4 separate regions of the Homo sapiens genome follow, and regions 1, 2 and 4 are each linked to region 3. Evidence: fine-mapped expression QTL. A gene starts in region 3. Each other region holds a variant in brackets. All regions are shown on one strand. Distances are from middle to middle. Region 1 overlaps FAH (fumarylacetoacetate hydrolase). Region 2 overlaps CTXND1 (cortexin domain containing 1). Region 3 holds the start of CTXND1 (cortexin domain containing 1). Region 4 overlaps ARNT2-DT (ARNT2 divergent transcript).

Region 1 (2,689 bases), 97 kb after region 3:
ACCCTAGAAGAGGCTGCCTGGAGAGCTTAGTTACTCATTCTCAGCCCCACTGCCAACTCCCTGGGCCTCAGTCTTCCCCTCCTGAAAATGGCAAATCTGCTTTAGGCAAAGAGCTGAACCACCTGAATCCAAGTGGCTTTCCATTCAGGGAATGTGCAGGGCAGACCCTTGGACCACATCTCTGACCCTGGTCCCCACACCCCAGCTGAAGGCAAGAAGGAGTCACCACCAGTAAGCAACTTCCAAAATGGGGTCACAAGTGCAGCTGCCTGCTGCCTCAAATGCAAACAAAGCCTAGAAGCTTCAAACTTGTGCTTCAAACTATGACCTGAGGACCCAGAAAAAGTCTGAGAGAGTGAGTCCCTCTACTTTCAACCTTGGGAGTTATTTTCTTCAGCACAAAACTAGAGGGGGCTCACAGGTCAGATCCAGGATTCCTGGGCTCCAAGTCTGCTCCCTCATTCACCATCTTATCACCTTGGACAAGTCTCTGGGCCTCAGTTTCCCATCTGCAACTTGAGGGAAACAAACTAAGGAGGGAGACCGCATTTGTCTAACTTCAAGAGAATGAATGTGCATTGCCTTTGTTTTAAAATAGTTGGTCATATCTGATATAAAGTTGTCCAAAGGAAAGCATTACCCAACTCCCAGCCTGACATAGAGGGGGAAGCATGGGATTGGTGTGGGCGAAGGATTACCCAGGTGCCGAGGCAAGAGACTGAAGGCATAAACTGTAGCTATACTGCTATACAGTTGTAATACAAATTAGATATACAGATGATCATGGACAATTATCGATTATTAGTATAAACATTATTAATCATTAGTTTTTAATATTACTCTTTATTGTAGTACAATATAACCTAGGAATAACCGGTGGGTATAGGGTCAGGTACTGAAGGGACATTCTGAGAAGTGACCTAGAAGGCAAGAGGTGAGCCCTGTCACACCCGCATAAGGGCCGCTTGAGCGCTCCTTGGTCAAGCGGTAACGCCAGTGCCTGGGAAGGCACCCATTACTTAGCAGACCGCAAAAGGGAGTCTCCCTTTCCTTGGAGGAGTCAGGGAACACTCTGCTCCACCAGCTTCCTGTAGGAGGCTGGATATTATCCAGGCCTGCCCGCAGTCATCTGGAGGCCTAAACCCCTCCCTGTGGTGCTGTGCTTCAATGGTCACGCTCCTTGTCCACTTTCATGTTCCTCCTGTACTCCTGGTTCCTCTTTGAAGTTTGTAGTAGATAGCGGTAGAAGAAATAGCGAAAGTCTTAAAGTCTTTGATCTTTCTTATAAGTGCATAGAAGAAAATGCTGACTTATGCTGCCTTCCCTCTCTGCTTCGGCTACCTTAGAGGGAAGAGCCCCCGTCCCATGATCACATGACTTGCTTGACCTTATCAATCACTTGGATGACTCACCCTCCCTACCCTGCCCCCCTTGTCTTGTGTGCAATAAATATCAGTGTGCCCAGCCATTCGGGGCCACTACCGGTCTCTGTGTCTCAGTGGTAGCAGTGCCCCGGGCCCAGCTGTTCTCTCTTTATCTCTTTGTCTTGTGTCTTTATTTCTTACAATCTCTCGTTTCC[G/A]CACACAGGGAGAAAACCCGCTAAGCCCCGTAGGGCTGGACCTTACAGATTGGGAGGCTGACAGATGTGGGGATCAACCCCATATCTGCCTCTTACTGGCTGTGAGATCTGGAGCATGATGCTTTGCCTCTCTGGACCTCAGTTTCCTCATCTGTAGAATGGGGACAATAACTTCACAGTAGGTTTATTGTGAGAATTTAATTAATATCTGTAAATCTCTCACCACAAGAACAGACACAGGGTAGACGCTATTCATGCCACAAAGATTTAGAGAGCATCTTCTCAGTACCAGCATTACACAAAGGCTGCTGAGGCCCTGGGAACAGTGACGTGGTTCCTTCTCTCCAGAAGCAAAAGGAAACACAGGGTGTGGTGAGAGATAACCAAGGCTGGGCCGCAGCGGGGAGCTCATTCAGAGAGGGTGCTTAGGAGGTGACATTTAAGCTGAGTCCCAAAGAGTGAGAAGGGGCCAAGCATATAGAGAGCAGAAGGACGAGTATTCCAGGCAGAAGGAACAACATGTGCTAAGGCCTGAAGGCAGGAAGCTGCTCTTAGCACATCTCAGAGACTCAAAGGCAGCCAATGTGGCTGGAGAAAGCAGAGGCCAGGAGGCAGCAGCACAGCCAGACCACGGGGACTTTAACAAGGCACCCGGCAAAACCAGCTCCACACTACTACAACCCCGTTCTCAGAGGCCACCACCCCTACCTTCACAGAGAGCACCCCTGTACACCTTACTAGTCCATCAACCAGAAATGGAAGGAAGGCGTCTCCTGTGTCTTTGATGCCAACTCGGAGCCCAGGCAAAATCTGGACCAGAGTTGGGGTTCATAAGCATTCGCTGAATAAAAAAAAATGAATAAAGTGATGGCAGGATTCATTGTTATTCCACTCAAATTAGGAAAGGCTGACTGCTGACATGGGGGAAGGGAGGTTTTGCCTTGGCAACTAGTCTTGCCTGGCAAGGCAGCCATCACGGTTGGAATGTCCAATGCCTGCAGAGAAAGCTTCAGAAGAGGCTTGTTCAGCTGGAAGGCCAAAGGGCCAACTCTCCACCCCCAGCACTGTATCAGAGGACAGCGGAATGGGGCTCTCTCTTCCAGACATCTG
Region 2 (2,689 bases), 29 kb after region 3:
AAGAAGGACAATGGAATAGAATGGATAGATAATTCCATAACTAGACTGTTCTGGTTGCCTGTTGCTGTGTAGCTAAAGACCCCAAATCTTGGCTTATAACAATAGCAATTATTTTATTGTTCACAAATCTGGGAGTTAAGTGGGCTCAGCTAGGCTGTTCTCACTCAGGATCTCTCAGCTGATTGCAGTCGGTCGGTGGTTGGAGCTGGGCTGGGGTCTTCTGAAAGTCTTCTTCACTTGCATATCTGGCACCTGAGCTGGGGAGACTTACACAGCTGGGGCTGGAACTGCTGGGGTTCCTCAGGCATCCCTCTTTCCTCTTTAGTCTCTCCACTTAGTGATCGTCAGAGCAGCTGATTCTTGACATGGCGGCTCAAGGTTCCCAAAGTGAGTGTCCCAAGAGAAAACAGCAAAAATGATGTGGCCTTTTCTAACTCAGCCAAGTCACACAGCATCATTTCTACCTCATTTTATCCACTGAGGCAGTCACAAAGGCCTACCCAGGCTCAATGGGGGGACGCATGGACTCAACCTCTTCAAAGTATTTGTGGACATATTTTTAAATTAGCACATCAACCCTCACATATGGTTGCTTTTTTGTTTTGGGTATTTTTTTTTTTTTTGGCCAAAAAGCATATTAAAAGGTTCTAATTTCACATCAGAGAAATGCAAATAAAAACCACAATCTACCCCCAGAATGGCTGGAATTTACAAGGCCCAACCTACCAAGTGCTGATGAGGATGCAGAGCGACTGGGACTGTTGATAGGAGTGTCAATTTGTCCATCCACCATGGAAAACTCTGCCCATAATTGCAACAATTAAACATACACCTATACAGTCCAGCAACCTTCTAGATATACAACTAATAGAAATGGATACATATATCCACCAAAAGATAAACAAAGACAGACAAGAATTTCTTAGCAGCACTATTCATCATAGTCCCAAACTAGAAACAACCCAAATGTCCACTAGTTGTAGAGTGAATAAATCGTGATATCGTGCATTTCATACAATGGAATACTTCACAGCAATAAAAAAGAACTACTAATACATGCAAAAATATGAATAAATCTCGGCCGGGCGCGGTGGCTCAGGCCTATAATCCCAACACTTTGGGAGGCTGAAGCGGGCAGATCACCTGAGGTCGGGAGTTCAAGACCAGCCTAACCAACATGGAGAAACCTCATCCCTACTAAAAAAATACAAAATTAGCCGGACATGGTGGCACATGCCTATAATCTGGAGAATCGCTTGAACCTAGGAGGCGGAGGTTGAGGTGGGCCGAGAGCGCGCCATTGGATTCCAGCCTGGGCAACAAGAGCAAAACTCTGTCTCAAAAAAATAAGTAAATAAATAAAAATATGAATAAATCTCATAGACCT[T/G]ATGTTAAGTGAAAGAAGCCAGACACAAAAGAAAACATTCTGTATGATTCCATTTATATGAAGTTTCAGGACAGGTAAAACTAATCTGTGGTGATATCAGAATAGTGGTTTCTTCTAGGGGACAGGATACAAATGTGTGTCTGTATGTATTTGTGTTTATTTGTTTATTTATAACAAATATATCTAAGAAACATTGTCATATGTGAATCCATTGTAAAAGAAAAACACACTCAAGGAAATACTATGGCAGATTTAGTGAAACAAAGAAATAATTTTTTAAAAAAGATGCAGTAAAAAATAAAAAGCATTATAGAACAACAATAAAAGTAAAATAATGATAAGGCAAAACTGTAAGAAAAACAAGAAACTTGGCAGAATTACAACTATACCCATTTCAAAAACGTTCCTATTAATTGCATTAAAAAGAGAGGAGGAACTGTTAATAACAATTAAAAGAGATAATGTGTAAAACTCATTCATATCTTAATTCAAACAAACCTATTTTAAGAAAACAATTTTGAGATAATTGGGGAAAATTGACCATGAATTGGATATTGTATATTAGAGAGTTAGGGTTACATTTGTTGGTTATGATAGAAGTATTATAGTTATGACTATTTAAGAAAGAGTCATTAATTGTTAAAGCTTTAAATTGAAGTATTTTACTGGCAAAATGATATGTTACCTGGGATTTGCTTCAAAATACTCCAAAAAGGGGGGGTATGTTGATGAAATAAGAGTGGTATAATATTCATAATTGATCATCTGGATGATTGGTACATGTGGATTTATTATATCGCCATTTCTACTTTGTGTATGTTTTAAATTTCCATAAAATTTTAAATTCAAATTTTCCCTTACAAAAAGAATATAAACCTTAAAATTGGATGGATCAAATAGCCATGAAGAAATAGAGGATTCTAATAGCATAATGAATAATCTTGATTTAATGAATATATCTAAAATCCTATATGCCCCCAAAACAGAATATTACGTTTTTATAAATGTCCATGGAATCATTTCAAGAAACTGACTATGTATACACACATATAATGCAAAAAGCAACACCTATACAAGCTATATTCTCTGACCACGGTGCAATGAAACTAGAAATTAACAATTAAGAGAAACCCCAAATAAAATTTTCTAGCTATTTAATAATTTTTGAGAAACATATTTCCAAACAACATTTAAATCAAAATATAAACTTGAGACTACATAGAAATGAATAGCAGTTAGAGCAATGGTTTCCAAAATCTATGGCATGCAGCCAAAGTTATACTCAAAGAAATATATAAAGCC
Region 3 (2,689 bases):
AGGAGAATTGCTTGAACACAGGAGGCAGAGGGTTGCAGAGAGCCGAGATCGTGCCATTGCACTCCAGCCTGGGCAACAAGAGCAAAACTCCGTCTCAAACATAAAATAAAATAAAATAAAAACTATCTATCTGATTAACATGAAGTACCACCTTAAACACCACAGTTTCTCATGTACTTCTAATTCTGGGCTCTTCATCCCATTCCATTGAACAGTCATGTCCGGACCAGTAATGTGCTGGTTTTTGCCTTGTGACAGAGGCGGTGTCGTGTGATGGGGTTGAAGCACATAGATGCATAGTTTTTGCAGGCAGAACGCCTGCATCAAACCCCTGATCCCCTACTCCTACTTGTGTGACCTTACACAAAAGTGTAAGTGTGATACTTACACTTTTGGGCTTCCATTTCCTATCTGAAAATGGCAGCAGTATCAGTACCTGCATCATAGCTTGTTGTGATGAATAAAATGCATTAATCCACGTAGAGCACTTCCTTAAATAGTAAGCACTCAAACAATGTATTTTATTTATTCATTTATTCATTTATGCATGCAAGCATTTCTTCATTTTAATATCCAGCAGGGCTAGCTTCCCTTATGCTCTTCCTTATCAACATTTTGTTGCCTGGTCTCTTTATTCTTCCACATGACACTGAGAATCATGTCAAGTTAAAAAGAAAATTCTACTTGGAATTTGATAGAGATGGCATTGAATTGACAGATAAAGAGGACATGATGGGATTACAGTGTTTACTTCTTCTTGCCCAAGAATAAGGCGTGCGTCATAATAGATTCAAGTCTTCTCTAGTCCCCTAGTAGAGAAGGTTGTTTTTTTTTTTTTTTCTTTCACATTTCATGATAAGTTTATTTTTCCTAGCTACTGTGGCTTGGCTATTAGTGAGAATGGGATTTTTTATTTGCCTTTCAAAATGGTTAGTAAGTGCACAAGAACACCGTTAATTTGGTATGTTTATTTTGTAGCCTGCCAATTCCTTGGAAAGGCTATTATTTCAACAATCTTCAGTTTGCACTTTCCAACTACACAATCACATCCGCTGCAAACAGTAATCATTTTTCTCCCGCTTCACATATATATAATATATATACATATATACACACATATAGAATATATATTTTTTTAACAAAGGCACAACTTCAGTATTTTTACACCTTATTTCCTTCTCTTGTCTGATTGCATTGACCAGACGTCCCAAACCGGCCCCCTGCTCTTGCCCCTAACTTTAATGGAAATGTTTGGCTTGCTATGAAGCATACTGCAGGAGAAGGCTTTGAGAGGGTTTTGCTGTCGTTGTTGTTTGGGGGGATTTTTTTTTTTAACTGTAAAGAGAATATCTGAAGAAAATGCATTTGAAGAGCATATTGGAATAGCCCAGATTGGTTTGTGCGCCTGCAAGGAGCTCTTGGGCCCCCTCCCCTCGCTGCCAACGCTCTGCCCCGGGGGCTGAAGTTTCTCTCTGCGTTTCCGCTTGAACAGCGTCCAGCTGCCTCGCCTTTAAAATGCCAGGACGGCCGCGGCTCCGCTCAGAGCCCCCTCTCGGCTGCTGGCCCGGGCTCGCCCGCGCCGCTGGGGGCTCTGACTCCTGCCGAGCCGGGCCTGGGCAGCGCCCCCCGCGCCCCGCGAGCCCGCGCCCCCGTCACCGGGAAACGCCGTAGCCGGCGATCCGCGGTCGCCCTGGGCTCGGCGCCGGCCCAGCCAGGACCCCGGGAGCGCACGGGACGGGCCTCGCCAGGTAAGGACCGCGGGAGCATCCCGGGACCCGCTGCCGCGGCGCCTGCGGGGCTGGAGCACAGCATTGTCGGTGCCGCCGGGGCGTCGCGCGGGTCACCGGCCGCAGGCGGAGGATCTGCTCGCTGAAGTCGGGCCGAGCCCTGCCGCGGCGGCGAGGAGACCCGCGTGGACACTGGGACCGATCCCCTCCTCGGCGGCACTGCGCCCGGGGCGCGCCTCGGTCGGCGGGGAGGGCCGGACCCGCGCGGCAGGGGACAGCAGCCTCGGTGGGAGCCGCACGGGAGCCGCGTCGCAGCGGCCCGAGTTCCACTGCGGGGCTCGGGGCTCAGAAACCGGGAGAGTGTGGTGCTGTGCTCAGGCACCCTCGCTGTTCTGAGCCTCACCTCCCCATTCGGGGATCCTCGGCCTCTCTGCCATTGAGGGGTTTGGGGAGTGTGAGTTGAAACTGAATCAAAGTTAGAAAGTCCTTCTCGTCACGTTCAGTGCCTAAAATTCCCTCTCCTGTGGCTGACAGTCACATAGAACAGATTTTTTCTCAATGTAACTGATGAAGGTCAGCACGGATGTAACTTCTGGGGAAAGTTCTGCTGGTGGCAGCCTTTCTAAAGAAATGTCAAGTCTCCGTTGGATTTTGTTCTCATCTGTGGCAAAAACCCTAATCCACGCTTTCATATATTTTTCCGTATCAGTGGAGGCGTAGACCTATCCTGGGTTCTAATGTTTTGGGGAATGTATTATGGAGCCGAATTTGGTAAGAGTCTCCGTGCCCGCAGCAAAAGTTCTGGAAAAGAACCTGTTAGAAAATCCAAGCTGATGCACCGCCTCACCAGGCGTGCAATAGGGCCACAGTGGCCTGTCAGGATGTGGCTCGGGACCCAGGAAAAAAGCTCCATCGAAGCCTGTGCTGCCTTCGTGGGGAGAAGTTCCATTCTAACCCACTCG
Region 4 (2,689 bases), 130 kb before region 3:
CTGTGCTTCACCTAGAAAGGCAGAGTAGGACAGGTGGAAGAAAGACAAGAATGAAACAGACACAGAGAAACAGAGGTGAGGTATGAGGACTGCTCAGATAGCTGAGGGCTTTCTGACTGTGACTACCTCCCTTGAGAGGTCCGGTCACTTAAGCCTCAAGGCTTCACAAAGCATTCTTGAGTCCATTCCGAATTTTAGTCCTTAAGTCCCCTGAATTGTTGCCCTTTACTTACAACCAAAGAGTTTGTTGAGACAAATACATACGCAACAGAAGTTTTGACTTCATTATGAAATAAGTGACTTTTATAATGAAATTAGATTTGAGTTGTCAGATAGGTGGCCTCCTCTATCTTTGTGTCATTACAAGAACTGTTCTTTCTTCCCGCATCACACAAGCTCATAACTTGTTGGAGTTTTTTCTGCGCTGTGGGATTCAATGCATGCCTGCAGACCTCAGCCCACTGAGAATCCTTGGAGGCAGGAGTCCTGTTGACTCCCCTCTGCAACCGCAAGGTCTAGCAAGCATTTAAATGCCCGTGGCACGTGGAAGTTCTTTTTTTTTTTTTTTCCAGTAAATGCCAAGTGAGCAAGTCTCCACACTCAGGTTTGCAATGATGTGCCTGATTTTGCCCAAATTGGTGTCCTTGGAGAGCCTGCTGTAGAAGAAAGTGCTGTTCTAGAAACAGCCCTGGAAATTAGAAAGGAAGGGCCTAGTTTCCCATTATTCTGTGTTCTTGGACTTGGATAATTCTCAAGTACTGTCATCCAGGCAAATATTTTGCTAGTGTTCACCAAAGAAAATTAGCAACAGCTTGGCAATATTTAATGAAAAATTATTGATAATTAAAAAGTCTTCATTATCACTGATGCAGAATAAGAGACCATCATGTAAAAATGAGAAAAATACCATACTGGCATTTTTTTTAATGGGGCATAACATAACCTTTCTACCTTTTTCTAGGCCAAATGTTAGCTGAATTTTTAAGTTTGCCAGCATAGTTTAAGATAGGTTCCAAAACAAAAAAAGGTTGACTCTAAACAACATATATCCATTGTGATCGATGCATCACACATATTATTCATTGGAGGAAATGTTACGCTTCTTAGGTAACTTCATGGGGGGAAATCTTGAAAACAAGAGTAACCACTTATTGAGCATCCACTCTTCTCCTGGAACTTTATGTTATTTATGAACATTATTGCTAACACTCCTGATTACCTGGAAAAGTATATTTTATTATTGCCCTCTTGCATTTATGGAAATCAAAGTCTGCCCAGGGTCACACAGCTGGTAAAAGGTTTGGGCTGGGATTCATGTGCATCCTATTTCCAAAGTCTTGTCCTTGACACATTTTAGCCCAATAAGCAAATAAGGATATTATTTTGCATAAACTCTTTGGGTTGCTATTTTCCTAAAGGACCTCAGTGGCACAGCCAGAGCTTTTTATTATAAATAGACTAGTAATGTAAACGCTTCACCAAGGCTGGGGTGAGTTGGTGTCAGGCATCCCTTGCACATCACTCTGCTAAAGTAGGCAATAGCAAGCCTCATGCTTCACATGACAGGGTCAGCCAACTCCACCCAGTGCCTTTCCTGTGGGTTGCAACAGTAATATTAATAGATA[T/C]CAGATAAGACCATCTTGAGTCCATCTGGCACGTGTTCCCATTACACTGCCTCAGAAAAGAAATTTTAACAGAACAAAAATCTCTCATAAATCTGCATAAGTATACAATTCTACTGTTGAAGCGTACCACTGTGTTGTTAATAGTTACTTCCGAAATCATGCCAACCGCAGAAAAATACAGGTAGAAGGTATCCCTGTCTTTACATATAAGTCCAAGGAAAGAATGCCAGGCCACAGGCTCATGGAATTGGGTCCCAGGAGAGGAATTTATCACTCTGAATTTAATTTTGAAAACAAATTCTCATTTCTTCTTTGCATTTTTCAAAAAGATAACTCCTTTTTTTTTTTTTTTGATGGAGTGTCACTCTGTCTCCAGGCTGAACTGCAGTGGCTCAATCTCGGCTCACTGCAACCGCCACCTCCCAGGTTCAAGCGATTCTCCTGCCTCAGTCCCCTGAGTAGCTGGGATTATAGGCAAGCACCAACACGCCCAGCTAATTTTTGTATTTTTAGTAGAGACGGGGTTTCACCATCTTGGCCAGCATGGTCTTGATCTCTGGACCTCGTGATCTGCCTGCCTCAGCCTCTCAAAGTGCTGGGATTACAGGCGTGAACCACTGTGCCCATTGAGAACTCCTGCTTTAATGACACATGGCAGGACTGTTCCTTTAGGAAGTACTTAGACAAAAAGGAAAGGTTCAGCATGGTCTTGTGTGATATCTATTTTTATAATTGCTACAAACCATGGGGAAAACACTGGGCAAAACTGGAACTGTTCAATCTTTTAGGCCTCAGTTATACAGAGAACACGGAGCTGGAATTAGCTTTGGAAAACCTGAATTCAAGCCTGGCTCTGATATTTAAAGACTGTGTGTCCTTAGAAAAGTCACTTCACCTCCCTGAGCTTTTGTTTTCTTCTCTATATAATGGAGTAAGTCATAGCTGACTGGATTATTTATAAAAACTAAATGATATAGTTTAAATGAAAGCCTTCCTAGCTAGGGTCAGGTAGCTAGGGCATTGTAATTATATTTTGCCCAACTGTTTCTCCTCTAGAAATATGA

The links.
Region 1: its variant is fine-mapped to the expression of CTXND1 in sigmoid colon (GTEx, PIP 0.98).
Region 2: its variant is fine-mapped to the expression of CTXND1 in lung (TOPMed, PIP 0.94).
Region 4: its variant is fine-mapped to the expression of CTXND1 in atrial appendage (GTEx, PIP above 0.99).

The regions. Positions count from the first base shown.
Region 1 is chr15:80,154,460-80,157,148 of GRCh38, reverse strand. The region is part of intron 1 of FAH (fumarylacetoacetate hydrolase); the gene reads right to left. Among named protein-coding and RNA genes, the nearest start is that of FAH, 2.8 kb to the right of the region's middle. The variant G/A (reference allele first, on the strand shown) is at 1,580.
Region 2 is chr15:80,221,747-80,224,435 of GRCh38, reverse strand. All of the region lies in intron 1 of CTXND1 (cortexin domain containing 1), which reads left to right. Among named protein-coding and RNA genes, the nearest start is that of CTXND1, 29 kb to the left of the region's middle. The variant T/G (reference allele first, on the strand shown) is at 1,388.
Region 3 is chr15:80,251,066-80,253,754 of GRCh38, reverse strand. CTXND1 (cortexin domain containing 1) reads left to right here and starts at 1,542. Exons shown (of 3, transcript NM_001352888.2): 1 at 1,542-1,748.
Region 4 is chr15:80,383,520-80,386,208 of GRCh38, reverse strand. All of the region lies in intron 3 of ARNT2-DT (ARNT2 divergent transcript), which reads left to right. Among named protein-coding and RNA genes, the nearest start is that of ARNT2-DT, 19 kb to the left of the region's middle. The variant T/C (reference allele first, on the strand shown) is at 1,626.